Linked DNA regions of Homo sapiens: all the other regions are linked to region 2. Evidence: fine-mapped expression QTL. A gene starts in region 2. Each other region holds a variant in brackets. All regions are shown on one strand. Distances are from middle to middle. Region 1 overlaps MCC (MCC regulator of Wnt signaling pathway). Region 2 holds the start of MCC (MCC regulator of Wnt signaling pathway). Region 3 overlaps MCC (MCC regulator of Wnt signaling pathway). Region 4 overlaps MCC (MCC regulator of Wnt signaling pathway).

The links. PIP is the estimated chance that this variant, and not a neighbour inherited with it, causes the effect.
Region 1: its variant is fine-mapped to the expression of MCC in skeletal muscle (GTEx, PIP above 0.99).
Region 3: its variant is fine-mapped to the expression of MCC in blood mononuclear cells (TOPMed, PIP above 0.99). The same link has a PIP of 0.9 or more in whole blood.
Region 4: its variant is fine-mapped to the expression of MCC in whole blood (INTERVAL, PIP above 0.99).

The regions. Positions count from the first base shown.
Region 1 is chr5:113,213,472-113,221,471 of GRCh38, reverse strand. All of the region lies in intron 3 of MCC (MCC regulator of Wnt signaling pathway), which reads left to right. Among named protein-coding and RNA genes, the nearest start is that of TSSK1B, 220 kb to the left of the region's middle. The variant G/A (reference allele first, on the strand shown) is at 3,695.
Region 2 is chr5:113,483,496-113,491,754 of GRCh38, reverse strand. It overlaps MCC (MCC regulator of Wnt signaling pathway), which reads left to right and starts at 3,302. Exons shown (of 19, transcript NM_001085377.2): 1 at 3,302-3,510. The coding sequence starts at 3,341. RefSeq lists an enhancer at 3,109-3,403.
Region 3 is chr5:113,059,401-113,067,400 of GRCh38, reverse strand. It overlaps MCC (MCC regulator of Wnt signaling pathway), which reads left to right. Exons shown (of 19, transcript NM_001085377.2): 14 at 3,234-3,417. Among named protein-coding and RNA genes, the nearest start is that of DCP2, 87 kb to the right of the region's middle. The variant C/G (reference allele first, on the strand shown) is at 4,965.
Region 4 is chr5:113,048,664-113,056,663 of GRCh38, reverse strand. It overlaps MCC (MCC regulator of Wnt signaling pathway), which reads left to right. Exons shown (of 19, transcript NM_001085377.2): 15 at 2,705-2,939; 16 at 7,365-7,571. Among named protein-coding and RNA genes, the nearest start is that of DCP2, 76 kb to the right of the region's middle. The variant G/A (reference allele first, on the strand shown) is at 4,136.

The sequences.
Region 1 (8,000 bases), 270 kb after region 2:
TCCCCAGGCAGGAAGGGGAATTGTTTTGGGAAAGGGCTGTTATCATCTTCGTTTCAAAGCTAAACCATAAACTAAGTTCCTCCCAAAGTTAGTTTGTCCTGTGCCCAGGAATGGACAAAGACAGCTTGAAGGTTAGAAGCAGATGGAGTTGGTTAGTTCAGGTCTCCTTCACTGTCTCAGTTACAATTTTTGCAAACGTGGTTTCACCCAGACTGGGATAAATGCAAGCACATCTGTGTTCACCACTTCTTTTCTCTTATTTTCTTTTATGACAGCGTCTCACTGTGTCACCCAGACTGGAGTGCAGTGGCACGATCACGGCTCACTGCAGCCTTGACTTCCCCAGCTCAGGTGATTCTCCCACCTCAGTCTCCTGAGTAGCTGGGACCACAGGCATGTACCACCATACCTGGCTAACTTTTTGTATTTTTGGTAGAGACATGGTTTTGCCATGCTGCCCAGGCTGGTCTTGAACTCCTGGGCTCAAGCAATCCACACGCCTTGCTCTCCAAAAGTGCTGGGATTATAGGCATGAGCCACCATGCCCGGCCTCACTGCTTCTTTTCTTTTAGTATTAGGTGCCAACTAAAAGTGTTCACCACGTCTGTTCAACATTGCACTAGATGTTCTAGCCAGTGCAGTAAGGCAAGGAAAAACAATAAAAGGCTTCCAGATCTTAAGAGGGAAATGTAAAAATTTCTTTATTCAAAGATAACATAACTGTCTGTGTAGAAAATCCTACGGTATCTACAAAGAAAACTGTTTTGTTAGGACTAATAAGTGAATTTTACATGGTTACAAGATACCAAGGAAATACAGAAAAATCCATTATATTTCTGTATTCTAGTAATGAACAATCAGAAATTGAAATTCTAAAACAGTATCATAATCTGTCAAAAATATGAAATACTTAGAGATAAATTTGACAACAGATGTGCAAGATCGTGCACTAAAAAATACAAACATTAATAAAAGAAATGATCTAAATAAATGGAGCAAGCTGCTGTATTCATAGATCAGAAAACTCAATGTTGCTATGATATAAATTCTCTCAATTGATCTATAGATCTCAATTAAAATCTCAGCAGACATTTCAGTAGAAATTGACATGCTGGCCGGGCGCAGTGGCTCACGCCTGAAATCCCAGCACTTTAGGAGGCCGAGGTGGGTGGATCATGAGGTCAGGAGATCGAGACCATCCTGGCTAACACGGTGAAACCCTGTCTCTACTAAAAAATACAAAAAAATTAGCTGGGCGTGGTGGCGGGCGCCTGTAATCCCAGCTACTGAGGAGGCTGCGGCAGGAAAATGGCGTGAACCCGGGAGGTGGAGCTTGCAGTGAGCCGAGATTGCGCCACTGCACTCCAGCCGGGGTGACAGAGCAAGACTCCGTCTCAAAAAAAAAAAAGAAAAAGAAATTGACATGCAGATTCCAAAGTTAACATGGAAATGTAAAGGACTTTTATTAGCCAAATTAACTTAGAAAAAGAATGAACCCGGAGGATGTATACTATCTAATTTCAATAAGGGGTTGGCACTGACCGGGAGGATGTTGTGAGTCACATTTATTTGTACCAAGTTGGTTGGGTGTGTGGTATACAGTAGAAAATGGCATAGGAAAAACATTAGTGGGAGTCATTCTGAAGGCCAGGTTGGACTGGATGAAGAGGAATCAATATTCTCTTTATAGCACTCCTCTAAACCTTGTCCACTGTGGTTGAGGGACATGAAATTTAGCCTTTAACATAGTTTCTGGCCTGCTGGGACTTTAAGAAAACAAACCTCACTTTATTATGGAAAGTTTCAGCCATATACAAAAGTAGAGAAAATCGGTATAAGGGAATTCATTATACGGTCCTCCAACTGGGACCTATTATTGAAATTTTAAAGCAATGATTATAGACTATCAATAATATACTATTACTAACGTAATACAAAATCATCTATTTTTGAGATCCTGTTTTAACATCACCTTTTTTCAAATAAGCTATTAGGAAAATAAAAACATGTTAACACCAGCTTTTTAGATACATTTGTGGTTAAACATAGCAGCTGATCATTGAATTTTAATTGCTGATTCTTAATGCTACTGACTTTTTATTGGAAGTCCTCACAGGAGTTCAGGGCCCCCCAGGAAGGGCCTCCAGAATTCATTGCCAAGGGCCGTTTCCTTTAACCTTCCTGTGTACAGAGACTGCACGGCACCTCCCAAACAATAGCTTCCAAACTTATTTGGTAACAGAACTCTTTGTTCAAATGAAATCTTCAGCACCCCAACATTTAAAACAACCCAAAAGGAAAAGCAGCGAACTTGTTATTATCTTCTCGGGTGTTTTATTCTGGGTTTAACAGCCAATATTTTATTGTTTGTAGAAACCTGGAAACACTCTCGAGAGCCAGAGGACAGTTTGAAACCTGCTGTTTTACTGCATTTCTCTGTTATATCAGGAATTTAAAAAATTTCTTTTTTTAGACTCTTCACCTTTACTCCCATTCAAAACCAAAACAAAACACGGATTTCATATTATCCATACGATGTTGAGAATTTCTGTGGATATTCTTCTACATTATTTCAAAAGCTATTCTTATAATGCGTCCCCTTCTATTCGGAAGAATAGTTATTAATTTACATCTTTTATTTTGAAAGTAACTAAAAATTTAAAACTGAGGATTTTTTTCCCCAAGTCTATCTTGCACAAAAGATATTGCCAACATCATGTGCAAATCAAAGCCTTGTGAACACATTATTTTAAATGCCTGAGAGGATATTTATATTCTAAAATCTGTATTGAGTTCCATTTGTAATGTGAAAAAACAGCTCTGAGACTTATTTGCTTTTCTTGTTTAACATTTTTTAACTCGCATAAATTGAAATACACCCGTACTTTGGTGTTATGAAGTTCATTTCTACCTCTGGGCATTGTCTCATTAGTTGCACTTGTGGGATTTGTAGTGAAGGAGGAGAAAACCCTAATACACTTAACTGATTATTCTGACCCACCTTCTGCCCTCCTGGTTGAGCGGGCGGTAATGTCAGGAACAAGGAGGAGAAAGCGGAGGCACTCAGCAGATCACAGGTGCCCTTTACCCTTGCCTGACATTCAGCTCTGCCCAGCCCCCAGCCCGAAAGCCCAGTGACAAAAATACCAGCCAATCTCAGGAAGCTGCAGACGTTAGAGACGTGAAAGAATAAAACTATTGAAGGCCAGGGCATGAAAGCTCCTACCCAGCACACATTTAGAGTTATTTATCCTAGCTGAGGCGATAAGCCAATGTCGCTTGTCGCCAGTGCTCGTGAGTAAGAGAAGCTGGGTAAAGGGCTCCCCCACCCCCCCACTCTCCATACTCCCCCCAGTTTCCCACCTCACCCCCACCCCCGTGCAACCATCCTTCTGGCTTCTTAAGAGCCAGATGCTCACTTAGGATTTCTGGCTTCTTTCTAAACTAAACTATTTACAGTGTCTGGTCAGCATGGGACAGATCAAACTGCAGAAAATACTGAGAAATTCTGTTTGGGATATGTGCGGCACACTTCCTCAGTCCCCGAAAATGTGTTGGAAGAGGAAAGGAACATACAGGCGTGGTGTGCACACTCATGTGCTCATGTCCTTTCTGACCTCTCAGTGTTTCTCTTGTCTCCTGGGATTAGATAGGACAGCATTTTCATGAGAAGTGCTCACTGGGCTCTGCCTGA[G/A]TTCTCCGGTTTCACTCCAAAAGATAAACGACAGCACCCTGGCCATCCGTCATAGTCATGTCATGCAACCGGAGCATCAGATTAGGGGCACAGGTGGAAGGCAGAGTTTGCCCTGATTAGCTTGGAGCCCCACTTTCCTCCTTGATTCCCAGCTCCTCCAAAAATTTTCATACACGAGTGGGATCTGTTTTTTACTTTTTGCTAAATGTGTTGGTATTACTCCCTGTTTTTGTTTTGATGCATACAAAACTCAAGTATCTCTGTTCTAGCCCCCATGTACTTACCTTTAAAGAAAGATGAAGTTTTGTATGTACATTAGCTTAGAAAATAATATCTTTGCAGTAATAAGGCTATAAAAAATCAACTTAATATTGTCCTTTTGATTATCAAAATGTCTACTCTTCAAAATGTGTGCATTACATTCCAAGCTATGTGCTATAGCTGAAAAAACAAATTATGGTAAATTCTATCAGGAAAAGACAATTTACAGAACAGTTTGTTGATGCTTCAATTTAGTATCACCACTAGTGCTTTTTAACCAATGAATCTTTATGGGAGAGAGAGAGAGAAGCTCCTCCTTTGGAGTTTGGTCTTTTATCTTGAAGGATTAGTATTAATATAAGACCTAGCTGCTTGTTTTCATAATTTAAAATATGAAACTACCACCTGAATCAGGGCTCCTGCTATGAAAAGATCAAGTGTGATGCTATAACATAGCTGAGACGACCCTAGCCATGTTCATTGTCAGTGTACTTGGAGCCTTAAGGCAGAAGACTTTGTCCATAGTAATAATTGTTTCTACTTATTGAGCACCAAAATTGCTTGACAAAGGTAGTGGGCATTTTACACATATTATTGGTTTCATAGCCACCCTGTGAGATAGAGGAATTATTTCATTGTCTTCGTTTTGCAGAGGAGGCAACTGAGAGTGAGCACCTTAACTAAGATCCTACAGCTAGTGAACGGGAGTCAGACTTTCAACCCTTATCCTAGTGGGAAATCCCCTATTCGGGGTTTCTACTTTGTCACCCATCTATAGGCAAGTCAAAACTGATACAAAAGAATAGAAATTTCATCAGTTGAATGACTGTGTTCTCACCAAGGGACTATGGCTGAGCCTTTAAATATAGTCATTTTGTCAGGAGCCTTTAAATATAGTTATTTTAAAAATACCTTGTAAACACTCATCTACCTAGTTAACATTTTTTGATGGCTACTGTGTGCCTGTCACTGTGCTGAATTATGTCTGTAAGACATGGGCCTTGTCCTCAAGGAGCCACGTCTGTTGGGGAAGACAAAAATGCTTACAGATTATTTATACTATAGGTCACTGATGGAGGGATGTTCAGGGGCCATGGGAACCATCTTAGAAAGACAAAGAACGTGTCAGGTTAAAAAGCAGACTGACAGAATCCTGGGGAGCTAGTGTTCCTAGGACTTCTTATACCTTCATTGGGCAGCAGAATAACAAGAGCCTGTCCAGTCACAGTCACAAAGGTAGGAAGGAAACCCATAAGTTATAATAGGTAGGGCAAGGGTTGGCAGACATTTTCTGTAATGGACCAGGCAGAAAATATTACAGTTTTTGCAGGGTATATGGTCTCTGGTGCAATTTCTTAATTCTGCCATTTTTGCAGCAAAAGCAACCATAGGCACTATGTAAATAAAGGGGGCATACCTATGTTCCAATAAAACTTTATTCACAAAAACAGGTAGAAGGTCAGATTTTGCTCATGGGCCATAGTTTCCTGACCTCTGGAACAGGGAAAGGAGAAGGGCTTGCCATCAAACAAGATATAACTGAGAAACAACAGTTTTGATTGAACAACAAAGCGATTGGTGGTTTCTTTGAGAGATCAGAGTGTGGTCATTCCAGCCCCTACTGAGTGTAGGCATTTACTAAATATTTGTAGAATGACTAACTAATGGCTTCAACTTGGCCTGGAGATAGTAACTGAGGCTCTCTCGTAGTGAAGGGAGAGGTAATGGGATACCAGAAACTAGTCAACTAATAAAGAACAGAAAGTTATTTATTATTTCTGGAAGCTGGGAACGTCCAAGATCATTGCGCCGGCAGGCTTATTGTCTGCTGAGGTTCTGATCTCTGCTTCTAAGAGGGCTTGGATGCTGCATCCATTGGAGGGGAAGAACACTGTGTCCTCACTTGATGGCAGGCAGAAGGGCAAGTCAGCCGAACCGCCCTCCCCCGCCAGCCCATGAACCGTCTTTTATAAGAGCCTTAATCCCATTCATGAGGGCAAAAGCCCTCATAACCTAATCACTTCCCAAAGACCAACCCCCACCCTTAACCACTATCACATTGGCCACTGAGTTTCAATACCTCAATTTTGAAGGGTGCAGTATTCAAACCATAGCCAGCACTATGCTAAGGACAAAGATACACAGGTAAACAAGTCATACTTGAGATCCTTTTTTCAACAGATATTAAGAAACATCTCTTAAGGTTCCATTCTAATCTCCCTTTCCTCCCCCCACCAAGTTGTCTGAAGTCTAGTAGAGGAAATAGACAAGCTATTATACCAAGCAACTAAAATACAGTGTAGTTGAACATGGAAGTCTGACAGCAGAGACCTAAAGAGGATGCATTCACCTCTGCCTAGGGTTGTCAGCAAAGGCTTCTGGAGGAAGTGATAGCTGAGCCCAAACTTAAAGGGCTGGCAGTAGCCAGCCAAGTAAAGGGTAAAGGGGGTGGTGGGAGAGATGAGGATTGTGTTCCAGGTAAGGGAAATGGGGATTGTGTTCCAAGTAAGGGAAATGGTTTGTGTGCAAAGCCCCAAGGGCAGGGTTGAGCATGGGGATTTGGAGGTTCAGCCTCACTGCAGGTTTTCCAGTAAGGCTGAACCAGGTGCCAGTAGAGCATGGGGAAGGTAGAAGGGGTTACAAATGGCATTGCAATGTGGGCTTTATCCTGATGGCAATGAGGAGCCATTGTCTGATATTTTTTACATGGAGAATGGGCAGGCCACCACATGAAACTTGAGCTTTAGAAGGTGCGCTTGGCTACAGTGTGGAAAATGGCTTGGAGGGTGTTGAGATTAGAAGTGGTAAGAACAATTAGCAGATCCAAGTGATCTGGGAGGAGGATGCTGATGACTTGAACTGAGTGAGTAAAGTTGGAGTGGTGTAGAGCTGCAGAAGCCTTTAGGCACTGATACTGATAAGGCTGGGGCTTGGATGAAGAAGCAGAAGGAGTCAAGAAACAAACCTAGCCTGCTATAGGATCTCATGCCCTCCTATGATCTAGTACACATCACTTTACATTTTAAGTATTTATCTCTTAGATTCTCAAGTTTGCCTATAAGCTACTCAAGGATCTACCATTGTTCCATGGCACCCAGTATAGGAGCGCAGCGAATGAACACGCAAGGCAACTCAGTTCATGGAGTTTGATTAAACAGAGTTTGTGAATGTGGTGGAGAAAGGATCTCTGGGCAGAGGACTGAGCATGTGGTAGTGTCTCCCCACTGGGATGTGGCCTGGTGGTTGAGTGGGGCTGTTTCTCAGCTCCGTCGTTCTTTGTGGCTTTGAAAGCAGCACCAGGGGAATGAGAGGAGGGCATTGGCCGTAGCCCAGGATGCTTTTCATGGCTGAAGTTGGAGCTGCTCAGTGTGTGGCCTTGGATTTTTGTTAATTCACACCATTGTGCGTGACCTTGTATTTTAAGTCCGGAATATGGGGACAGGGGTGGGAGGAGGGAAATGAGAGAGACAATAATACTATTGCAAAAAACATCAGTCCTACAAATTCTGGACTTGGCTGATTGGGTCCCTCATGTTGTGTTCTTTGCATTAGGAATGAGGAGGACTTAGGAAGTGGAGAAAAAAAATAAATGATGCACCCTGCAGGGAAATTCTTTAGTGCTGAAAAGGACTTAAGGATTAGCTGATTTGTCTGTCCTCTTTCGGACAAAGTAGCTTTGGGTAAGTGAATTACAGAATTCTGAGTGACAGAGGCAACAAAGGGAAGTTGTCATTCACTGTGAGTGGGTATGAAAGAGAACACGTGTCAGGAATTAGAAACCAACCTTACTTTTTAGGCAGGCAGCTTCAGAAACAGGGAAGTAGAGCTACTGTGCCCACCACTCTCAGTACTGAAAAGAGCCCTGAGCTTGCCTTTTCTCTCTTACCCGCGTGCTTTGACGTGAGGTTGTCAAAGCCGCTTGTCAGTGTAGCCAGTCAGCCTTTCATCATTAAGGGTCCAAGCAGTCTTCAGGTTATGTCGTTGTTCTCTTTTATGACTAAATATTTTTATTAGGACACTGCTTGCTGTGAACTGCCTGAAGGGT
Region 2 (8,259 bases):
TCTATGGCTTTGCTGGGTACAGCCCATACAGCTGCCCATACAGGTTGGAGCCTGGTGCCTGAAGCTTTCTCAAGTAGATGTTGCATGCTGTTGGTGACTCCACAGTTCTGGGGTTCTGGTAGTGGCCCTGTTCCCACAGCTCCACTAGGCATTGCTCTGTTGGAAACTCTCTGCAGCAGCTCTGACCCTACAATTCTGCTTAACATTGCCTTAGTTGGAGCTCTCTGAAGTGCTCTGCCCTTGTTACAAGCCTTTGCCTGGACCCAGGCTTTCAGCAAAAATCCTTTGACATCTAGGTGGAGACCCCACATCTCCACAGCTCTCGCTTTCTGCAAACCTGAAGAATTATAATGGCATCATATGGATGCCATTAAGGCCTATGGTTCTCATCTTCTTGAGTGACAGGTCAATTCACACCTAAAGCTTCTTGAGCCACAGCTGGCATGTCCAAAAAGCACTGTACCAGAATTTGGGAAGTAAAGACCTGAGAGAGACCTTGGCAGCAAGCCCATGAAAGGTGCCTCATGTCTGTCTCCTGAAACCATTCTGTCCTCCTGCCTCTGGGTCTGTGATGAGAGGAACAACTCAAAGTTCTCTGAAATGCCATCGAGGTCTTTCCTTCTCGTAATGATACTTTCTTCCTTTACTAATCTCTGGAACAAAAGGTTGCTGGGCTACACCCTTGGTTTCCTCTCCCAAACACACCTTTTCACTCTTCACATGGCCAGGCTGAGAGTTTTCCAAATCTTTCCACTTTGCTTCTCTTATGATTGTAAATTCCACCTTTAAAGTTTTTTTCCCCCTCTCACAGCTTGATGTAAGTGGTTAAAAGTAGCCATGCTGCAGCCTGAATGCTTTACTGCTTAGATATTTCTTTGGCCAGATACCCCAGTTTCTCTCTCTCAAGTTCAGCCTTCCAGAAAGCCCTCAGGCATAGAACAGTTCAGCTAAGTTCTTTGCCAATTTATAACAAGGATGGTCTTTACTCCATTTTCTTGTACCTTGTTCCTCAGTTCCATCTGAGACCTTGTCAGAATGGCCTTTACTGTCCATAGTTCCATCAGCATTCTGATTATGACCATTTAACCAATTTCTAAGGAGTTCCAAACTTTCCCTGTTCTTCCTGTCTTCTCAGCCCTCACTAGAACCTAGGCTTTTTCTAGACTGCTGCTTCATTCTTGTAGCCTCTGCTCATTATCCAGTTTCAAAGCTGCTTCTCCATTTTCAGGTATTCGTTTTCGTTAACACCCCACTCCCGGTACTAATTTCTGGTCTTGTCAATTTTCTGTTGCTTAGAACAGACTACCTGAAACTAGGGTGATTTATAAAGAAATGAATTTATTTCTTACAGTTCTGGAGAATGAAAAGTCCAAGGTCAATGGGCCACCCTGCTGGTGGGGACTCTGTGCAGAGTCCCAAAACAGTGCAGGGCATCACATGGCAAGGGGGCTGAGCCTGCTAACTCAGGTCTCTCCTTCTCTTCTTATAAAGTCACTAGTCCCACTCCCATGATAACCCATTAACTCATTAACTCATGAATCTATGATTTTAGTGCCCTGAAATACTGGGAACTTAGAGAATAATAAAGAAGTAAAGTAGGAATAGGTAGATGGGGTGGAGAGGAGGAGAAAGAGAGCAGAGATTCCTTCCTTCTGACCTAGCAGACATTCCCAAGACATATGGACTTGTTCCAGTTATATATTGCTGCATAACAAATCACCTCAAAACTTAATGGCTTAAAACAACAATTTTTAATTATTATCTTCACAGCTCTGGGGGTTGGTTAGCCAGTTTTGCTCAGGGTCTCCAATGCAGTTGCAGCATCTAGAGCTAGCATCATCTCTCACTCATGTCTGGCACCTAGTCTGGGAAGATTCTAAGATCCAGGGCTAGAACAGCTGTAGCTCTTTGGTCATCTCCTTTTTTCTTTACATGGTCTTTCTGCATGGTTTCTCCAGCTTCAGGGTAGCCAAACTTCTTTTCAGGCAGCTCAAGGCTTCAAAGGTAAGTGTCCCAAGGGAGAGAGCCAAGTGCAATCTGCATTGCCTTTTCTAACCTAGTCTCAGAAGTCAAGGCAGTCACAAGTCCAATCCAGGTTTAGGGGAAGCAACAGACTCCACCTCTTGATGAGGGGTGCACCAAAGAATCTGTGGACATATTTTAAAACCACCAGAGAACTTCACACGCCTCTCTGGCAGAAAATCCAGGACAGAATAATGAGTCATTCACGAAACCACAAATTGCTTCACTGTGGTTTCCCTTTGGCTATGGGGGAATAGTGCAGTGTTTAAAGGCTCCTGCTCTGGAGTTAGGCTGCCCGGGCTTGCCTCTGCCCTAACACTTACTAAACCTGGAACCTTGAGCAGGTCTTGGTACCTCAGTTTTCTTACCTGTAAATTGGGAACAATGAGAGCTAACAGTTGTTGAGCACTTACTAGGTGTCAGACATTGTCCTAACTGCATTATGTCTGCTCTCCTTTTATATGTAAGATAACTCTATGAGGTACTTATCTATTAATACTTCCTAAGTCGTAGGATTGATAATAAAAGAGGCATCTTCCAGGTCTGTAGTGTGGATCAAATGAGACCATCTATTATGTTCGCTCTTGGCATTATTAAAGCTGTTGGGGGAAATTCTAGTGATGCCTGGCCAGTAGAGTGAGCCGTTTCCAGAAATTGACCCAACGTACACAATGCCACACAGCGTGCAGACTCTTCCCAGTACAGAGTGGGAGCCAAGATGAGGGCTGCGAGGGCCAGGTTTCTTGACAGGTGTCAAAATTTCATAAAAAGGCCAGTCATTCCGGTTCTCATTGGTGGCTATGGGTACAGAACCCGGAACAATCCTGGAGAGTGGGATTACAAGCACCGTTTTGAGTTTGCAGAAGGAGAGTGTTTATATAGCTTCTCTGGAAAAGGAAGCCATGACTCCGGGCGGTCGGAGAAGGTCTGCCGGGAGTACACCTGCCCTCTGCCTGAAGCGTCCCCAAGTGTCCCGGGCCCGCGTCGTTGCCGGATGCACAATGCTGACACCCTTCCCGGGGGCTTCCAGTGTATTCTGCCTCCTCTTGTGTTCCCGTTGCCACCCTTAGCTCCCTGACTCTTCCAGCCACCTTCCCCTCCTCCCTCTTCCCTGAGGTGCCTCCTCGGGCGATTCCAGAGCGCCCATCTTCCCAGTCCGGGCAAAACCCGGAGAGGTGGAATCCCTCGCCCGGAGCGCCCCGGCGGCCACTGGGCATGCTCCGTTGTCAGGCAAGTTCGGGGCTGCAGGCAGCTTGCGCGCCGCGCGGATTCCAGCTGCGGTCGCGCGTACTCCTCCTCCCAAGTAGGGAGCGGGCGCATGATGGCGGCCGCGGCGGCAGCGGCTGCGGGGAGCTCCAGCAGCGGCGGCGGCGGCGGCGGCAGCGGCAGCAGCAGCAGCAGCAGCGACACGTCCAGCACCGGCGAGGAGGAGAGGATGCGGCGCCTCTTCCAGACGTGCGACGGCGACGGGGACGGATACATCAGCAGGTACGCGGGGAGGTACGAGGAAACCGACAGGAGCGAGATCAGTCCCTCCGCGCGCCCTTGACCCCTGCTCTGCCCCCTCGCCCCAACTTGCGGCAAGTTGCTCAGAAGCTCGCGGGAAAAGTTGGCCGCGACTCCGAGAGCGCGTAGCCGGCTCGGCCACGAAGGCCGAGGGGACTGCTCTGTTCGCCTTGCGGGGGTGCCAGTTGGTCCAACTTTTCCCAGCGCTGTCTTTGTCTAGGCGTTGGGAGACATCTCCTTAGGATGCGCACTCTTCCGGGGGCTTGGAGTGTTCTTCCCTGTGGGAAAAGGAGTTCTGGCCGCTTGTCCCAGGTAGGAGGGGCTGCCCCACAGCCTCGGGGTCCTGGGCATCAAGATGCCGCAGCACGGGGCAGCGATCTGCCCGGCGGCTTGGTGGACACCCCAGGGCCGCACCGGGAGGAGATGAGCTAAGCGACAGCCTCGGACAGGGAAATAACCTGTGAAGAAACTTTCTTGTGCCGCAGAACCCATGAATTCCAAACTTCAGAGCCCAAAGAATGGGTATCGTTTGCCACCCAGTATTGATTTAAACGCAGTAGCCTGAGAGGAACGAAGCGCTCAGGAGCAAACTAGGGCTAGACCCGACTCCTACCCGGCTCTGTGCGCTGACCAGGTGAGCTTCGGCGTGGCTCCGGGCGCCTCCGCGCCTCCACTCACAAACAAACTTTGGGGTGTTTGCTTCGGATCCCCCGCACTTCCTACAGAGGCGGTATTTAAGCTTCCTGCCTCCCGGCTTGGCCAAATAATTACTTCTGCCCAAATTTGTGTCACTTAGACTCTTGTGGTGAAGAAGGCAATCGCAACATTTTCTGGTATGCTTCTATTGAATGGTTGACACCGGCCATTGAAGACTTGGTATCCGTGGAAATTTGAATTGCCTTGGATGAAGGAGCAGCCTAAGTTGTGCATTACATGTTTCTTTAGTCTATGTCTTGGTGATGCTAAAGATCGTTTCTGAAAATCCGGGGCTGCTTCCTGATTGTCCCTGCCTACCTAAAAAAAAAAAAAAGAAAGCAAAGTGCGGAATTTTTCCCTTAAAATAAAAAAAATTATTTATTTGGGACTCAACGCAATTTTGATCATTCTTAGGTGAATTTTTATTACTTTGCTAAAGTTTTACTGAGAAACATTAGGAAGATATCAGAAAACTTGATGGAGTAATTCTGTTCGGAAATGAAAATAATATGTAATTCTGATTGACTCCATGCAAATTTCTATCTGGAAGTCTCGTTATTTTGGTTCTGGGAGTAAAAGAAATTTCATTATATAGTTTTCCTTTTTGTTGTTTTCCTACTTGAAAGGTTATTATCTCATTTGCAATAATAAAGGCAAACTCCAACTTTGGATACAATTTTTTTTTTTTTTAGACAGAATCTCGCTCTATCACCCAGGCTGGAGTACAGTGGCGTGGTCTTGGCTCACTGCAACCTCCGCCTCCTGGTTCAAGAGATTCTCCTGCCTCAGCTTCCCGAGTAGCTGGGATTACAGGTGCCCACTACCACTCCCGGCTAATTTTCGTATTTTTAGTAGAGAAGGGGCTTCACAATTTGGCCAGGCTGGTCTCGAATTCCTGACCCTAAGTGATCCGCCCGCCTCGGCCTTAGGAAGCGCTGAGATTACAGGCCTGAGCCACCGCTCCCCGCATGGATGCAAAAAAGTTTAATTTCACACGGGCAAGAGTGCATACAGAAAACTAGCAGCGTGCTATCCTTTTCTAATTTGGCCTATTAATATATTGCTTTATCTGAACTACACTTTCTATATAAATGCTCACATTATTTTCGGTGATTCTACCCGGGAGGATAATGAATTCTGTAAGCGTAATTTGAGTAAAGTGGGTGGTGATAAAGAAGCCGTTTTGGATTAGAGTAGAAACTGGCTGGGGCAAAAGTGGAAAAAGTTGTTAACATTCCTTGAGCTGCATTACTTTAATGTGTCTGCTTAAAAGTTTCAAGGTATGTGTAGTAATGAACCCTAAATCATAACTTTAACTGTGGGTGGAGCTGCCCTGAAAATTATGCTGTGGCAGAATTGCCATGTAGGAGAAGTTTAGGGATGGCAATCTAGGGCAACAAGGAACTTGTCTGGAAGTGTGTTTACCTGGTAAGCACAGTTTTACCTGGAATTTACGTTTATGTGGTAAGACTTGGGGAATGGGGCTAATGAAGGTAAGGGGCATTAAATGATTCCCTCTCTGAAGCCACTTTTCTGTGCTGCTTTCATTTAATGACCTGTACTTACCACTCTGTAGTGGGTGATGTGGTTTGGAGGGTTGTGCATTCCTGTTCTATCAGACATGAGAGTTGGACTTTTTAACATTAAAACCTTAAAAACTTTGGATTCATCTAAAGACGTTAAATTTATGTTCCTGGTAGACAGCTGTATCTGTTAGAATTTCAGATGACTATATGTCATCACAGTAACCTAACCATAGTCAAGTAAGGGTTGGCTTTGTCACCTAGTAGAAATCTGGAGGTAGGCTATCTAGGTTGGGGCAGCAGCTCTGCGGTGGTGTCAGTCCCCAGCTACCTTCTACCTTTCTCCAACACCATTTTTCACATAAAGCATTCATCCTCATGGTTATCTCATAGTCCAAAGGTGATTGCCCTGTCTCCCTCTTCATCCCCAAATTCTAGGGAAGAAGATGTAAAAGGAAGTGGAAATAAGTTGTGCCTGTATCATTAAAGCAGAGCTTTCCCAAATCCCTTAATTGACATCTTATTGGTCAAACTACATCACTTAACCATGCCTACTTCAGTAGAGTCCGAGGAAGCATATAATTCAACTAGGCACATTACCTCCTAAACAAAATCTGGGTTCTGTTACTAAGAGCAGGAAATAGATATTGGGTGGGCAAGTAGCGGTTAATACCTATAATAAACCCCCCATCCCATGATAATCCACATTCAAGTATATTTGCTCTGGTCCTCCGCTGAACCCTCATTCTAAACAGGAGTAGGCTGGAAATCTTAAGTGTGGGGGAAGGATAAGTGGAAGAGAAACTGGGCCGTGAGGGGAAATGTCAGGGAGGTAAGGGGTGGTGCTTTGTGCTTTCAATATTCTCTTGGCCCAGTCTTCCTATCAGGCTGACAAAAAAGGCATCAGCTAACTAGATTCTTGGAATTGCTGCTTCTGCCAAGGAACTTTAGCCTATAAAAGGGACCCAGAATCATCCCCATCAATAGTTAAGGTAGAACAGAAAGCTATGATCAAGTAGCTCCAAACTGCGGCTGGGACCCCGCTGGATTTGGGCAGCAGAGTGAGACCACCGTAAGCTCTTTCAGTGCATTTCATTAACCTTACAATGACTTTACCACATATTTTATGGTACTGGATTTTTTGGACCCTGCATACCATATTATAGAAGGTGGTGGAGGTTACTCTATTTGTTGAAATTATTTTCCCTTTGGAATTTTAAAGCTTTTTGTTTTTACCGTTCAATATAAGAAACTGCTTATGTTGAACATACCTTTGACAAATATTGAAAGCCAGTGCTTAACATTTTTGAGTTCCCAAGTCTCAGCTCAAATGTTGATGCCTTAGAGAGAGCTTCCCTGACCACTATATCAAAATAGATTTGCTTTATCCTGCCGTTATTGTCCATCATAGTACTGATTGCTTTCTTTCAAAGTGCCCTTTACAACTTATAATTCCATTTCTGTTTGCTACTTTGCCTGTTTATTGTCATTCTGTCACTAAATGTAGGCTTCCTGAGGGCAGAAATCATATCTGTTTTCTCAAAAACAGTGTACTCAGTACTTAGCACAGTATCTACCATGTAGCACACAATCAGCAAATTCTGATGAAAATGTGACCAAGAATAAACAGTGGTATGTTCATGTATATTGGAAAATGTTTCAAACATTTTCATTTTCAGATATTTTCCATATTTATGTAATATTTTAAATATGTATATTTTTAACTTTTATTTTAAATTCAAGGGTACATGTGCAGATTTTTTCCATAGGTAAACTTGTGTCGTGGGGGTTTGTTGTACAGATTATTTCATCACCCATGCCTAGTACCCATTAGTTATGGGTACTAAGCCTAGTGCCCACTATAGTTATGGATACTAAGCCTAGTGCCGACTAGTTATGGGTGCTAAGCCTAGTACCCATTAGTTATTTTTCCTGATCCTCCCCCTCCTTCCAACTTCCACCCTCTGATAGGCCCCAGTGCGTGTTGTTCCCCTCTATGTGTCCATGTGTTCTCACCATTTAGCTCCCGCTTATATGTGAGACCATGTGATATTTGGTTTTCTGTTCTTGTGTTAGTTTGCTAAGGGTAATGGCCTCCAGTCCCATCCATGTCCTTGCAAAGGACGCGATCTAGTTTTTTTTTTATGACTGTGTAGTATCACATGGCATATACATACCACACTTTCTTTGTCTGGTCTATCATCAGTGGGCATTTAGGTTGAGTCCATGTCTTTACTATTGTGAACAGTGCTGCAGTGAACATACAGGTGCATGTGTCTTTATAATACAACGATTTATATTCCTTTGAGTATATACCTAGTAATGAGACTGCTGGGTTGAATGGTATTTCTGTCTTTAGGTCTTTGAGGATATGTGTATATTTTATTAAAGATATTTTTTCTTTAAAAATAACTTCTTTTGGGTTATATAAAAGATACTCTTGTTGTTGAAAATTTGGAAACATATAGAAATATACAAAAATAAGATCAAAATGATCTCTAATCCCATAACC
Region 3 (8,000 bases), 420 kb after region 2:
GCTGGGATTACATGCGTGAGCCACTGCGCCCGGCTTTTGAGTAGTTTTGAAACATGGGTTTCCCCTGCCAGGTCTCCAGGTGTCTTACGAACAAAGAAGAAGTAGTTTCACCCCCTGCTCTTGTCAGCATCACAGAATGCTCGCCCACCTCGCTTTCCTGTGCCTGTCCTTCCCCCAGCCCGGGGATCCTGTGCCCTGTTGGCCTGACCTGTACCTCGAGATCTGCACTGCCTGCTCACTTCTGTCCCTCAATTTTGAGTAAGGTGGAAGGAGTATCTAATTGGACACAAGCATGTCATTCTAGGAAGCGGCAGCATTTGCTAAAACGTGGCCAGTGATTGTGGCTCCGAGCCTGCAGTGATGTGGGGAGGACTGCAGTAGAAACAGTGCTAAGAGGAAAGAGAGACCCAAGGAGAAAGGTGGCCGTCTCTCCATGCAGAACTAAGCCCCGGACACCCCCTTAGCCTTCGGAGAGGCAATAGCAAGTAAACAGAAAGCCAAGGTGACCAGGTCTCTCCAGAGCCAAAGATGGATGGTGTGGGCAGGCCAGGCATTCCCATGTGTGGTAGCCAGGCCTCTGTCATGGACTGGATTTCTGCTGTGAGCTTCCATTAGGACTTGTCCATCCAGGACACACCCTTCAAAGAAAGTCACCATCCAGGCACCTTCTGAATGCACCTTCCTGTCCTTCTTCCCCGCTCCTCCCCCTTTGTCTGGGGGCTCACTTTTGCACTGAACACTCACATGTGTTTCCTCCTTCAGTTTCGACTTGCACAGGAATCTGAAGCAAAAGTGAAGGAAGGAAGGTATCCTGGGTGTTAATTTCCTGCTTCATATCCAAGTAATCCAACAAAGGAGCACACCTTCATTTGTATGGAGAGTGATGCTCTGATCCTCCCTCTGGTTTTTTTTAAATAGTATTACCAGCCCAGCCCAGAAGTAGAAACTCTGCCAGCATTTCCATTAGAAACCTCATTTTTCAGGGTCTTTTAACTGAACCATAAAACTTTATTTCTCATATGAAACAGATCCTAAAATGATCTTGGCCTGCTGTCAGGATTTTTTTAAATTAATATACGTATTAAGAAAAATGATAAATTAAAGGAAAAAGTCAATCGTATTTCCAGTTGGTTATCAGCGGAGTGTCTTAACCTGTTCAGGCCTCACAAGGTACCTTTCATTAGGCATGTACCTACTCAGTGCAGTTATTTGGTGTAGGAGCTGAAAGAGCTTAAATAAATCTGCCTTTTAAATATTCAAAATCAATAATGAAATGCTTTGTATTTACCTAATACTGGGAAGTTCATGTATACATTTATAATATGAGCCAGTAAGTAATGTCATGCCTAATTCCAAATAGCAGTCAGTGGTGAGATGTATGTAAAATGTCTTATTTGTGGAGAGAAGAGAGGCATGAAGTTTGTCAGAGAAATGACAGGAGGGAGTTCCAGGGATTTTTGGCCTGCAGAATGGGTCCACCCCATTTCCTGCCCACTCTCCATAGTACTGAGGGCAGGCTTGATTTTTAGCAGTTCCCCATTAAGCCTCGCCCTTGCATTCCGCTGACAGGAGTGGCTGGCCCATCATACTGTGCCATCATGCCACCCATCATGCCATAGAGCTGTTGCACAGCAAAGCAGGAACTCATTTGTGACATGCACCCACAGTATCTATGATTGTGGGTCTTTTCTTTGTTTCTTGTTGATGTCACAGGCATTCATTCTGTTCATTCTTTCATTCACAGGTGCTTTAGGCTAGTGGTTTTCAAACTGGTCTGGGAAGCTGGAGGAGTTTCTCTGGGCCTCGGCAGTGGGGTTGGAGGGTGGGACTCTGAGTGTGTCTCCCACTTCTGCCCACTTCATCCAATTCCGCATTTACCTTTTTTGTATGTTAGGATAGCATTTTCTATGATTTGGTGTAAGATTTCATTTAAAAATATTTGGAAAAGCATGGATCTGTGCTGTACAGGTAGCAAACCAGTGATTTGTTCAGCCAGCACAGTTTCTGTTTTGTTTTGTTTTATTTTTTTAAGGCTTTGTTTTTTTAGAGCAGTTTTAGGTTCACAGCAAAACTGAGAGGAAGGCACAGAGATTTCCCATATGCCTCCAACCCTCAACATGCACGGCCTCCCCCGTTTTCAGCGTCCCCCACCAGGGTAGTATATTAGTTACAAGTGATGAACCTACAGTGACACATCATCACCCAGAGCCCATAGTTTACATCAGAGTTCATTCTTGGTGCTGTACATTCTATGGGTTTGGGCCAATGTATAACAACTTGAGTCCACGGTTACAGTATCATACAGAGTAGCTTCACTGCCCCAAAAGTTCTCTGGCTCCACCTATTCATTCCTCCCCCAACCCCATCCCCTGGCAACCATTGCTGTTGCTGTTGTTCTTGTTGTTGTTTTGGAGACAGGGTCTTGCTCTGTTACCCAGGCTGTATTTGAACTCCTAAGTTCAAGCAGTCCTCCCACCTCAGCTCAGCCACCCATGATCTTTTCAATATCTCTATAGTTCTGTCTTTTCCAGCACAGTCTTAAATCACAATAGGAATGTGAACATTTTGGGCAGGGACTTCACTGCCTGGTCTGTGCGAGTGCCCACCACACCCTGATGTTCTGCACTAGCCCACTTACCTGGCTCCTGGAGGCATTTGAGTTCACGCCGATTACCAAGCCAAGAGAAGGGTCAGGGGTGGCATCGGTACCTATAATACAGAGCCAATCTAAAGCTCTCGTCTGAACCATTAGTTTTGTCTCTCTTGCCCCCACACAGGGCTCTAACCAAAGCTGTAGACATGTGGAAAGATGGCACAGTTTTGCCCTAGTTTCTCCCTCCCTCATTCACAGGGAAGTGCCAATGCACAGAGGAATGGCCAAATGGTAGACTTGTGGCTGAATGGGAGGAGAAGCCAGGAGCCTGGATCATTAGAAAAATCAGAGCGTGTTAGAGCTGGAAACAGAAATGTGGTGATCCCATTGGTTAACTCCTACACTTGTCCCTGAGGCCAGTGGAGCCCAGAGAAAGAGCAGAGAAATACCTTCCCACATGTAGCGTCTAAGTGATAGTGCCAGGCCCAGAACACAGATCTTCTCTTCGGCTGGGCACTGCCAATTCCCTTCCACAGTGCCACCTCTGCCCTAAGTAACAGAGTTAATTATGCATAGTCCCTCCCAGGCGTGCCTTGTCCAGGCCTATGTTGATTAATCCGTTGGCTTCTCTGCCACATAGGAGACCAGTCGGGGGATGAAAACATCACTCAGATGCTCAAGCGAGCTCATGACTGCCGGAAGACAGCTGAGAACGCTGCCAAGGCCCTGCTCATGAAGCTGGACGGCAGCTGTGGGGGAGCCTTTGCCGTGGCCGGCTGCAGCGTGCAGCCCTGGGAGAGCCTTTCCTCCAACAGCCACACCAGGTAATGCTCAGCCTTCTGCTCTGGGGTGGGCGTGTGTCCACATGGCATCTGTTCACTGGACTTGGTGTGCAGTGACCCAGCTCTTGGGGACTGTGTGGCTTGGGAAAAGGCAGACATGGCTTCTGGCATGCAGCCTGCTCCATCCAAAAAGGAGTCAGAAGATCAGAACAGAAGAGCTAGAAAGTGGCCCTCTCACTTTGCCAATGTGGAAACTGCAGTCGAGATTGGAGAGATTTGCTGTGGAAAGTGGTAGAGATGGAATGCAAACCTACCTTTCTGTCAGATCCATTTTCTCTGCATTGTTCTGTTCTCCATTTCTTTATAAGTCTTCATTTCCAGGAAGCACTTAGGGTAGCCAAGAGCCGTTTGCTCCAAATGGTCCCTCTGGTCCCAAGGCCCAGCCCAGCTCATCCTAGTTCCAGACATCACTCTCCTGTCTTCTTGTGCCTCCATCGTCTATAAGCTCTTCTCAGGCAAGAGCCTCTCCTCTCATCTCTTTTGCCTCATGGAATGATGCCACATTCACAGCACATGCTTACAGGCACTCAGTCATGAACCTGAGGTCAAGTTCACTGTCTGTGAATCTAGGAAATTAAAGTGGGTGCTTGAAAAAGGAAGCTAGGAAGAGAGCGGCGAAGACCTTGCAGAGCATAATTTGCTGAAGTCATTTCATTCTTTGGATGGGAGTGGAGAGTCAGAACAAAACCCTTTCTACTTACCTTCTCATTTCTTGCCACCAAAGCCCTAAAAACACGAATGCCTTCCCTTTATTTACCAGTCCTCAGTTTAGAAGACACTTTGTTAGAGATTCTTACTTAATTGCCAAATCGTGAAAGACTTGGAAGGGTAACTTACTCCATTTTCACAGGTTAGGAAACCTTGGCTCAGAGATAATGTCAGTGACCTGCCTGGTGATAAGAGGGAAACCTGGATGGGAACCCGGGATCTTAGCATCGAGCATATTGTTCTTCCCACATTGGATCTCATGACATAACAAAACAGTGTCTACTTGCAGACTAAGTGACCAGAACTGCATAAAGATAGATTGACTGTTGAGAGCCAGAGGAGAAATACTGATGCTTTCTTGGTGCTGGAAAGCAACTTAATGTTCCCCTCTCTCTTTCTCCCCTGGTGGGACCCGCCATCTACCTTAGCGCTTCCATTTACCTCTACTGGCCCAGGTGTCCCAGGAGAGGGAACATGCCCAGTAATGCACTCAGCCAGGTGCCCACAAACAAAAGGGACTTGATTCTTCTTTACTTCAGCAACAATTGTCTCATTCAGTGAAGCACAGATTATAATTTTTTTCATAAAACCATATTCTACTGTGTAAACACAGAAAGCAGATGCTCTTCTTAATGACTCTTCCAGATGTGTATAATCTATAATTTGTGTGTTTATTTAGTATAGAAATGTAGTTCTCATGTTGTCAGTGATGCTGTGTTGTTTTATTAGTGAACATAAGAGTTTGCTTGACAGGAAATGTGTGCTGTTTCAGTAGCTTATGAGGTTTGTGCTACGGATCATTTGCTCAAACCTCCCTACCC[C/G]CAAAAAGAATGTTGTGGTTTTATTCTGAATCAGAGACAAATTTAGAACCAGTCAGGAGGGAGAACAATTTTATCACCATCTATTTAGCTTTTGAATATTTGTTAGAAGTACTTGAACTTACAGGTTAGCCTTGATTTTGAGACTGTTTTCTTAGAGAAATTTAATTTGGGATCCTGTTTTTCTGCAGATTGAGATAAATTCAAAACACAGAGTCATTGTTTCCAAGGATAACCTCACCAAAGAATGGTTCTTAAATTAATTTCAGTCTCAAATGGATCTTCCCATCAAAGTACAGAGGTCTTTAGCTCCAATGTCACCCAATTCTCCTTAAAAAATCACTTTTACCCTCCCGCCCAAATCAGAGCAGCTCCGAGGATGGAAGAACCACACACGAGGCATTCATTTGTCACTCCACATTCTTAGAACCTGATGCAATTAGACTGCTTTATGTTAAACGTGGGTTTAGAATAAAGTCCCAAAGCACCAGACCCCTTTCATAATTATGATAATTATAGTAATTTTGTTTGTAAATCTTGCCATTCTGGCTCAGACATTCCCCCTTGTCAAGTTTATGAAAATAAAGAAAAGGATCTTTCTGAGTTGGAGCTTTATGTGGCCCAGCAAATCTCCTTTCCCCCCGCTGTAACCACCCAGCTTCAAGAGGTCTAATCAGAGTGTCCATCAACTGCCCCTCAAGGGTTCAGGAAAGAAACGCTGAGTATTGTGCCTCCAGCGGCATTTCTGGCAGCCCATAGGCAGCTCCTAACGACAGGAGGGTTAATGGTTTTAGAGAGGAGCAGCAGAGGGGTAGTTAACCAGCAAGGAGAATAAAAGTGATAGCCAACCCTCAGTTGACTGTTGGCAGGTGCCCAGGGTCGGTGCCACTTCATTTTTGAAAAATATAGCCATGGCCTCATCAGAAAGTATAATAGTCTTATGGACAGAGTGACTAGGTTGATTGCCTGGATGGCTTTATCAACATATCATGACAAAGAGGCACAAGGACTAAAATGTTAGGAAGTGGAAATAGGAATCCTTGGTCAAGCCCACCCTCTGTGGCAGGCCTCACAGTTCAGCTCCTTCTGTGCAGCGTAGTCATCGATCTCAATCCACAAAGGAACTGTGGCCAAGACAGGATCGGCCACAGCAAGTCTGTACTCTCAGAGACTGAAATTGAGTCCCTTGTCTCAGCACCAGGTGGGGACCCTGGAGAGCTGTGAGAATGGTGGTTGCAGCCTTGCCGTGAGCCTCTAGGTACCTCCAGGTAGCCAGGGTGCTGCCTGTGTGGCCACTCACTCTGGGGTGTAATCCCCAAGTTGGACTGGACAGCAGCAGAGCTCAAGAGATGCCTAGCTCTCACTCTTTGAACTAGTCTGGATTAAGGTAAAGTTTCATTGGGGCAGAAAAAATGGTTGAGGAGAGTGAAATCATGTCCATTGAAAGGGTGAATTTTTTGAAACAGCCACCTAGTTAGAACAGGCATCAGTAAGCTTCAGGGAATGAGAGTCAGACTAGATCTGGCTGAAACAGTCATCTTTACTGAGGAGAGGTGCTTTTCCATCTGTGTGTCAGGAGAGTCTATCCAAAGTCCTTGAGACAAACGCTTACTGGTGTTAGTGAGCTCTAGAGACCAGCCCCGACACATCCTTGACATGACAGCATTATGATCAGTCCTCCTGCTCAAATGTCCTCATCACTTACCTTTTAGGTTCTATGAGAACAAGGTATAGACATGGAATGCTTTTTATGGTTTTTTTTCTAGTGAGATCTAACTTCTTGATTTCAAAAGAACTGTATGTTTGTTGTAAAACTAAGCAATTAAAATGCCAGCATTGCAAAATGCATAGGATGGTAAAGTTCTCCATTCTAGGACTCTCACTGGAAAGGACATTGGACTGACCCCACTCATTCAGATAAATTTCAAATGCTCAGCAAAACAGATGCCCACCCCCAGGGCACTTTCCTTCTAAAAATGAGCTGCTAGGCCGGGCGCAGTGACTCACACCTGTAATCCCAGCACTTTGGGAGGCTGAGGCGGGCAGATCATGAGGTCAGGAGTTTGAGACCACCCTGGACAACATAGTGAAATCCTGTTGCTATTAAAAATACAAAATTTAGCCAGGCATGGTGGTACATGCCTGTAGTCCCAGCTACTCAGGAGGCTGAGGCAGGAGAATTGCTTGAACCCAGGAGGCGGAGGCTGTGGTGAGCCAAATCATGCTATTGCACTCCAGTGTGGGCAACAGAGTGAGACTCTGTCTCAAACAAACAAACAAACAAACAAACAAAAAGAGCTGCTCCTTGATGGAAATGAGATCTCAGCTAGGGCCAGGTAAGATGTTGATGAAAACTTCAGGAAAATGTCATCACGGATTTTCAAGGCAAAAGAAATGAAATGTCCTTCTAGCCTTCCACCAAGGCAAGCTGAGGAGGCTATGAAAAATGAATTTTTCTTCTAATGAGCAGGCTGGGGGACTGTCTTGAGGACAGAGGTGGGGCATGGTGGAGAGGGATAGAAGAGAGGATATTTGACGTCGATAGCTGGTTTGAACAGCTTCTCCTATAGTGGACAGGGTAGGTGGAGAGTGGGTCGGCCCGAACCGTCCCGAACCAGCCAGCCCCGCATTCCCACCAGGCTACAGGCCTGCTGTGTATGCTTTGTGCTGGAAGAGCTGCTGGCAATGAACAGATGCAGAGGAAAGCCAGCGTGACGGGAGCTCCAGCAGAGCATCACGGAAAGGAGAAACCCACACATCCTAGACTAGCTCCTCAAGAAGCCAGAGCAAGACACACATGTGTGGCGAGGGTTTTTGTCATTAGCCTTCCCCCACAGTCGCTCTCAGAGAACACAGACAGGCTCCTGTTCTGGAGAGGAGGAATAATGCAGCCACAGAAAGTGATTGATTCCCCCTTGACAACTGAGATCATCCAGCATTCCAAGCTGGGAGAATTAATGGATGACTTAACCCTTGCCCAGCAGCCAGCAGCAGGCCCTTGGGAGACCGCCAGCGCCTTTGTCTGTGAGGCCAGAGAAA
Region 4 (8,000 bases), 430 kb after region 2:
TGTTGTATAAATTATTTTGTCACCCAGGTATTAAGCTTCGTATGCATTAGTCATTTTTTCCGATCCTCTCCCTTCTGCTATTCTGTACCCTCAAGTAGGCCCATTGTTTGTTGTTCCCCTCTTTGTGTTCATGTGTTCTCATCATTTAGCTCCAACTTATAAGTAAGAACATGTGGTATTTGGTTTTCTGTTCCCACATTAGTTTGCTAAGGATAATGGCCTCCCGCTTCATCCATGTTTCTGCAAATGACATGACCTCATTCTTTTTTTATGGCTACATAGTATTCGTGGTATATATGTGCCACATTTTCTCTATCTAGTCTACCACTGATGGGCATTTAGGTTGATTCCATGTCTTTGCTATTACAAACACTTCTAATTTTACCTCATTTATTCCTTACCCTGACTTTATGAAGCAGGTACTATGATTACCTTCATTTTAGAGATGAGAAGACAGGGAATATTCAAAGTATGTAAGACGCTTGGGTCACACGTAAAGGTAGCACTTTGCTCTTAGGGCATTGCAGAGAATCAGAACCAATAGGAGGTGGGTCTATATGGAGACATCTATACCTAGATAGAAAGATCAAGATCGATCTCTTGATATAGATTCTAGTAAATCGCAAACAGTGATTTATTTTAAGGAATTGGCCCATTTGATAATGGAGCTGGCAAATCTGAAGTCTGCAGGTCAGGCTAGAGACCCAGGGAAGAGTTGATGTTGCCATCCTGAGTCTGAAAGCTGTCTGGAGGAAGAATTTTTTCCCTTTTGGGGGACCTGTCTTTCCCCTTAAGGCCTCTCTGATTAGACGAGGTTCACTCACTGTATGGAAACAGTCTCCCTGTAGTCTCTTGATTTTAATGGTAATCACATGTAACAAACACCTTCGCAGCAATGCCTAATCTGGTGGTTGACCAAGCAACTGCGCACATAGCCCAGCCCAGCTGACGTGGGAACTTACTGGGCATAGCCTCTGAAGAGATGGTGTTTAATGGTCAGGCTGATCTAGCTTACCTTATCTCCAAGGGACTTCCCACCCGTCCTGATGGTACAGAGGGAGTGAGACGCAGCCCCAAAGGGTTTCTAGTGCTCAGGAGTTTCCCATTCTAGAAGGGGTTCTCTGACTTGAAGACCACCCCAAGCCCTAGGGTAGCCTCTTCCTCCTGTGAACAGCAAAGCTCCAGCCACCATCTCTCTTCAGCTTTTCTCTCCCCGGAAGCCTTGTCTTCGTAGCAATGTGTCATGTACAAGAGTGGGCCTGCCCTCACTCATGTCTAGGCTGTGGGGACTACAGCTACTGAGTTGGGGTCCTGGCTCTTACCCTTTTGCAGTGTGAGATGAGGAGGGCAGGCCTGGGTTTGTGGCATCTGGCGGCCTGTGGAGATCACTCGTGGCCCCTGGTATAGCTTCTAGCTACAGGATTCTGGGGACAAGGACAGGGCTGTGGGACGAGGCTGCGGCCCAAGTCTAGTTGCACCTCTTTCCAGTCGCATGACTCGGCTGACCACTTGATGTCTCTGAGCTTCACTTTCCAAATCTGTAGCAACAGACATGACAACACAGCCTGGCCTGTTTTGATGCAAGGTCAGTAGGCCTCTGCTTTTTCCTCTGCCATCTTCAGACCAGTTCCATGAGGGGCGAGTCACCCCTAGGGAGGCCCAGTGCAAGTGCAGAGAAACTGCTGTCGGTGCACACTGGCCTCAGAGTCCTCAACCGAGTGGAGTGGGCCTTATTCGGAGGCACGGGGAGCAGCCTGCCCACTGCTGGAAAAGGCCAGAGCCCACTTGAAAGCCGTGGCCTCCGTTTTCCAGTGGTGCTCCCCCTTTCATGGTGGTTTGGTCCCCTAGAAACCTTCCTGGGCTGCCACAGGCCTGGGGTTCAGCTGGGGGCTCCCTGCCTGGTCACCATTCACCTTGGGCTGCCAAGGGCCCTTGGGCCAGCCCGAGTCCCTATAGTGAACACTATACTCAGACTATCCTGTGAAGGCCAGGGGGTACCCTACTCCCAAAGTGGTTATTGCTGTGTTGTGCACCCCTGTGTTTTTCATGGTACATGTTGCAAACAACAGAAGTAAACACAGCAAAACAGCCCCCTTCGGTGCTGCTCCGCAGGGACGGCTGCCACAGCCTGGGACACCTGCGTACACGTGCGAGGGTGTGACACGCATCTGTGGATCATGCCATAGGAGTTTTGTGCTTCAACTTTTGTTGCCTTAAATATACCTTTTTTAAGTTCTGACCACATGAGTATCTTTTTTATTACATATATAATATCTTTTAACCTATGTCCTCAAAATATCACCACCATTGTCGATATCACTATAATTTCACTTATTACAATTATCACTGTAATGTCCACATGATTTCCCTCCTTTTGATAGGTGTGATAAATCACTAAACTGTATTTTAGATTATGTTCCTTTGTATGTGTATCTTTTTGCTTCTGTGGAATTATTTCCTTAGAAATTCATTTCTAGAGTCCACAGTGTTGCGTCAAGGAGTGTAAGCATTTGTTATTCTTCATACTTAATTCTTTCCTAAAAGGTGGTATCATTTTCCTATGCTGTGAAGAAAACTGATTTTTGGATTACCATCTAAATAACACTGGGGAGAGGGAATGTGGAGAAGAGTGAGGAGGAAAGATCTATTTGCCATGACTTGGAATAACACAGGGTGGTGGGTCTTTGTTTTTCTTCTTTCTCAGCACAACCAGCTCCACAGCCAGTAGTTGCGACACCGAGTTCACTAAAGAAGACGAGCAGAGGCTGAAGGATTATATCCAGCAGCTCAAGAATGACAGGGCTGCGGTCAAGCTGACCATGCTGGAGCTGGAAAGCATCCACATCGATCCTCTCAGCTATGACGTCAAGCCTCGGGGAGACAGCCAGAGGCTGGATCTGGAAAACGCAGTGCTTATGCAGGAGCTCATGGCCATGAAGGTATGTGGTGGGTGGGTCCCATGTGCTAGGCTGCCACCAGGAGGAAATCTAAACAACCTCTGAAAGCAGGTCCAGCAGATAAGGAGGAATCAACCCCTCCTGCCCAGAGAAGAGCTAGACCCTTGTTTATAGACAGAGCTGGTTTCACTATGTCTGGGGGTCACTTGGGCTGCGTGTTTCTGGACAGGGGAGTTGAATTTCTAAGGGATTTCTCAGGGTGTCCCAGCCCAACTTTGGAGCCCTTCATCCTCTAAGAGAAGCCAGGTCAGACCTCTGCAGGGTGGAGCCTCTGTCCATCTAAATTGACCCCTAATCTCAAGAATGCTTGGAAATATGTCTTGGGTTGCTGATGCTGATGTTAACTCCGGCAGGGGGAGAACAGGGTGAGGCCAGTTGTAGAGTTTGGCCGAGAGCCCTAGTTTCCTGACACCCTGTACCTTTGGTGCAATGTCGAGCCTGCTCAGACCATAGTGCCCTCCAGTGAAGGTGTACAGTGCTGTTGAGGTCAGTGTTTCAGTGGATCTGAAACACTGGGCCCTTCAGCTGCTAGTGGAGATACCTACCTGCTGGTATTTCTACAGAAGGGAGCTTTCTTGGAAAGCTGGTGTCCCCTACTGGGAAGTAGTTAAACCGCCATACCTACAACAAGACATCACTTTGCCTGTTTCTGGTGTGGAATGCCAGGCACCAGCCCTTCACCTGGTACCTGCTCTTACAAGGCAGCTGTGGTATAAATAAGACCATATCTGATATTTGTCCTTGGTTTTGGGACAGAGTTTGAGAAACCCTTGGAGTTTCTTGCTGAGCTAGGGGTGTCTTTGTGATGCTGATGAGGTGACTTATGGTGGGCCCTAGACAGCTTCAGAATGTGGGCTGGTCACCAGAAGGACCAGGCGTGTGTTGGAGGATTGGGACTTTCAGCCACCTGACCTCCGGGGAGGGGAAGAGAGCCAGAGATTGAGTTTAGGACCGGTCAGGAACTGGAGTCTAGCAAGCCAGAGCAGGTCGTGGCAGTGCAGAGTTAATGGCTCCTATTAGGATCAGTACTGTCCGCAGCAGGGAGAAAAACAACCCCCTGGTCGCACCATCTCTGGAGAGTGGAGGGGAGCTGGCAACAGCAGCCATCCTGACACCCTCAGGGGTGACTCACTCAGCACAGCCCTGTCCTTGGGAGCTTCTTGAGCTAGAATCTGGGC[G/A]AAGTTTGGGAAGACACTAGGCAGTGGTAACAGATACAGGAATCTTACCTCCCACCCCCACCCCCATGATTTCCAAACTGGCTCATCTTCATCAAGCCACGCAGCTCCCATCCTGACCTCTCTGTAGAGAATCCTCATGCTGCTTTGGCTGATTCCACCTCTCATTGCTTATGAGCTAGACTTGGGTCCATCATTGTAGCGACTTTTCCCCCAACTGGGAGCCCTGTTTGCAGATGCTTGCAGCCTGTGGCACGAGCTATGAGGCCACCCTTCCATCATTTGTTCCAAACATTGTGTTTCTTTTGGCCAAAGACTAAGGATTTCCTTTTTAAAATTGGCCAACGTGGGGTGATAAATTTACTGGTATTCTACCTAAGAAAGACATTTTTGTTGGAATAAAAGTTCTAATACTCCCTTTGCCACTTGAAAATAAAATGTGTACTGATCTTAGAAATTTTCTAAAAAAGTAGAAAAGCTGGGAGGAGAACAATCCATAATATCATGATCCAGGGCAGCCATTGCTAGCATTCTGGCTTGGTTCCCTATGACTTTCTTGAAGGCTAAATATCAGAGCCGTCCCCTTTTCCTCTGAGTCCCTCCCAGTCTGCTTGGGGATGTGTGCTCACCCATACCAAATCCATTATCCAGCAGGTTACGTTGGATTTTCACCAGTTTCTAGGATCCAACTGCTGAGAAATTCAAATTTCTGTTTTTGTAATACCTTTTCATTTCTAGATGATGTGCTTGGTTCCTTTTCAAATCCATTCTTCTTTTTGTTGTTGTTTGTTTGTTTGTTTGTTGTTTTGAAACAGGGTCTCACTGTGTTACCCAGGCTGGAGTGCAGTGACACAGTCATGGCTCACTATAGCCTCGCCCTTGGGCTGGAAGTGATCCTCCTGCCTCAGCCTCCCGAGTAGCCGGGACTACAGGAATGCACTGCCCTACCCAGCTGACTTTTTAAGTTTATTTTTTTGTAGAAACAGGGTCTCACTTTGTTGCCCAGGCCAGTCTCAAACTCCTGGGCTCAAGTCATCCACCCAGGTCAACCTCCCAAAGTGCTGGGATTACAGATGTGAGGCACCAGGCCTGGCCTTCTCTTCCTTTTTGAACATCTTATCCCTTCATTATGACTCCTGTATCACTTTGTTTTAAATCTTTATTTTCTAGTTTTGCACATTGTTATTTCTGCTTCTTGTAAATGCTGACTCTTACTTTTTGCATCCGCTCATTCTTCGTCAGTGCTGATTCATTCTCATTTCCTCGGTGGTGGGGGTAGGGGGAGAGAATGCAAGCACCAGCTCATCCTCTGTGGAAACTGTCTTCCGTGGGGCCCTGAGGATCCTGGGTTGCAGATGTCCCTACAGAGTGGTTCTATGTTTAGATCTGTTGGGACTCATCAGTTTCTGAGGTTTAGGACTAGTTGTTATTAAGTTCTTGGCTCTGGATTCCTGTACCACACCTACACATGACACAAGCTTGAGGTTTAATTCCTGGAAAGAGATTTTTCTTTCTTTTCCCACACAGAGCCTGAGAGATGACAAGTTTACTTGTCACATCTCCAGAAAGGAAGTTTCCTAGTGTCTTATGGGCAGCCTGATGAGAATCCTGCTCCCGTAGGGGTCTGAGCTGTGGCTCTCTGCCTCAGAGGCCACGGCCCTGGCCTTGGGTAATGTTAAGCCCCCGGGTGGAGGGCCTGAGGACAGTCTGACGCCTTGCTGGCCAGCACCTGCCCTCCTTGCCGTTCTCTCTGGCAGAGTTCCCTCTTCATTTCTGGCACCCATAGGTTTCTCTTTCCCTCTTTCAAGCCTGCACTTATATGTTTGTTCTGGAAGCGACCATCACATTAGCTCAGTATGCAGTGTTGCCAGAACCTTCAGAATCCTGCTTCCAATGGCAAAAGATCCGAAGGCTCTGGGCGTGGCACACCTTTCATTCTGGCTTTTATGTCTGATATTTAGGGTAAAGAAGGTTGGCATGTTCTGAGTAGTTTACTGAGCATATTGACTAATGTCCCTTTCGAGGGGTGTCCTCTACCCATTTCCCCACATTTGAGAGTGAAAACATCTACCCCCTAGTCCAACTTACCCAGGAGAGTGCACCAGGCCTGTGGTTTATTACCTCAGAAGGGTGACTTCGGGGGTTGTGAGAATCTGAACTAACCTCAGGTGAGTCCATCTCACGGTGGGCTGGGAAGGCTGGACCTGGTGGCCATGGGCTGGTGGAGTTACTCTCCAGCAGAAGTGCGGGGACAAGAGTCATGCGTGGGCTCACCTTGAAAGGGAGGGAGGCAGTATAGCTCTGAACCAGACAGCTTGGCTGCAATCTGTGGCTCCACAGCTTACCCAGTAGCCATAAGCAGGGGGATTTCCTTCTGTGTGCCTCAGTTTCCCATCTGTCAATGGAGATAGTTGCAATACCTAACCCAGGTTGGGAAGATGAAATGAGCCACGTCATGTGAACACTTAGCACAGTGCCACGTGCTCAGTAAAGGCTACTGGCTGTCATTGTTACTGGCTCCTGGTCCCAGGATGGCACTGTCCTATTTTGGATTCACTTCGTATTCTCCACTCATCGCTCTCATTTGAGTTCTTAGGATACTTTTAGAAGTTGTCTGATGAGCAGTCACCTGTGAAGGATGCTGTTTCTATTGATTTCATTTGGGCCCTGAGAAGTAGGCAAGAGCTGGAGGTTGATGCTGCTGCAGGCATTCGCCGCATGCCTGGCCCAGCTACAGGGCAACAGAGGTGCCGTGGGTGTGATTAAACATGTGGTTGGTGCCATGGAAACCAAAATGGGAATTGGAAGGGGCTTGGCCAGAAGAGGCCTTCCATGGATAGGTGACTTTACAGCCTCTGGCAGGTGCAGCTCAGCCTCTGCAGACCAGAGAATGGGTTTCCATCAAGGCCCATGTGCCTGAGTGGGGGCTCTATTTGTTAGAAAGGTTTTCCCTATATTGAACCACAATCTTGCCTGTAACTTCTACCCTTCTGTCTCAGGTCTAGTCCATAGACTGACAAAGTGCATGGCCTTGTCCATACGTCATTCCTTTAGAAGTGTGGTGACAGGTGCCACGTCTCCTCCCACTCATCCTACTGCCAACTTCAAAGTGAGAACTCTACCATGGGCCTGTGGGTCATAGCCGGGGACCCCCCACCCACCCACTTGGCAGCAGCCAGGCCTGCTCTCAGATAGGGCATGCCTCATGTGCTCTGTGCTCCTTTGTCTGTAGGAGGAGATGGCCGAGTTGAAGGCCCAGCTCTACCTACTGGAGAAAGAGAAGAAGGCCCTGGAGCTGAAGCTGAGCACGCGGGAGGCCCAGGAGCAGGCCTACCTGGTGCACATTGAGCACCTGAAGTCCGAGGTGGAGGAGCAGAAGGAGCAGCGGATGCGATCCCTCAGCTCCACCAGCAGCGGCAGCAAAGACAAACCTGGCAAGGTAGGGCCGGAGTGGCTTGGGGACACCCTTAGGCTCAGTGACTGCCCAGTGACTGCCCAGTGACCACTGGCCACACCTCACCGCCCTGCTGCCTCAGTTCTTGTATTTGCATAGGAAATGCAGGCCATTCGTAGGTATCTAAGAAGGTGACATTTTGAGTGTAATGAAACCAGGTCTACATTTTAGAAATACCAAATCTCACTTTATGTAATAGTTGAACCTTTTCACATATCACAGTCACATCAGAGGGGTGATCTCTGCAGTTGTCCACTGATACTGTTCTCACCTCCTTCGTCTAATCCTCTGTCACACGGCAGCCCTCATTTGTTGGTTTATTGGTATAATAGGGCCCCCTTTATCCACAGGTGATATGATCCAAAATCCCCCATAGATGCCTGAAACCACAGGTAATACTGAACCCTTATATAT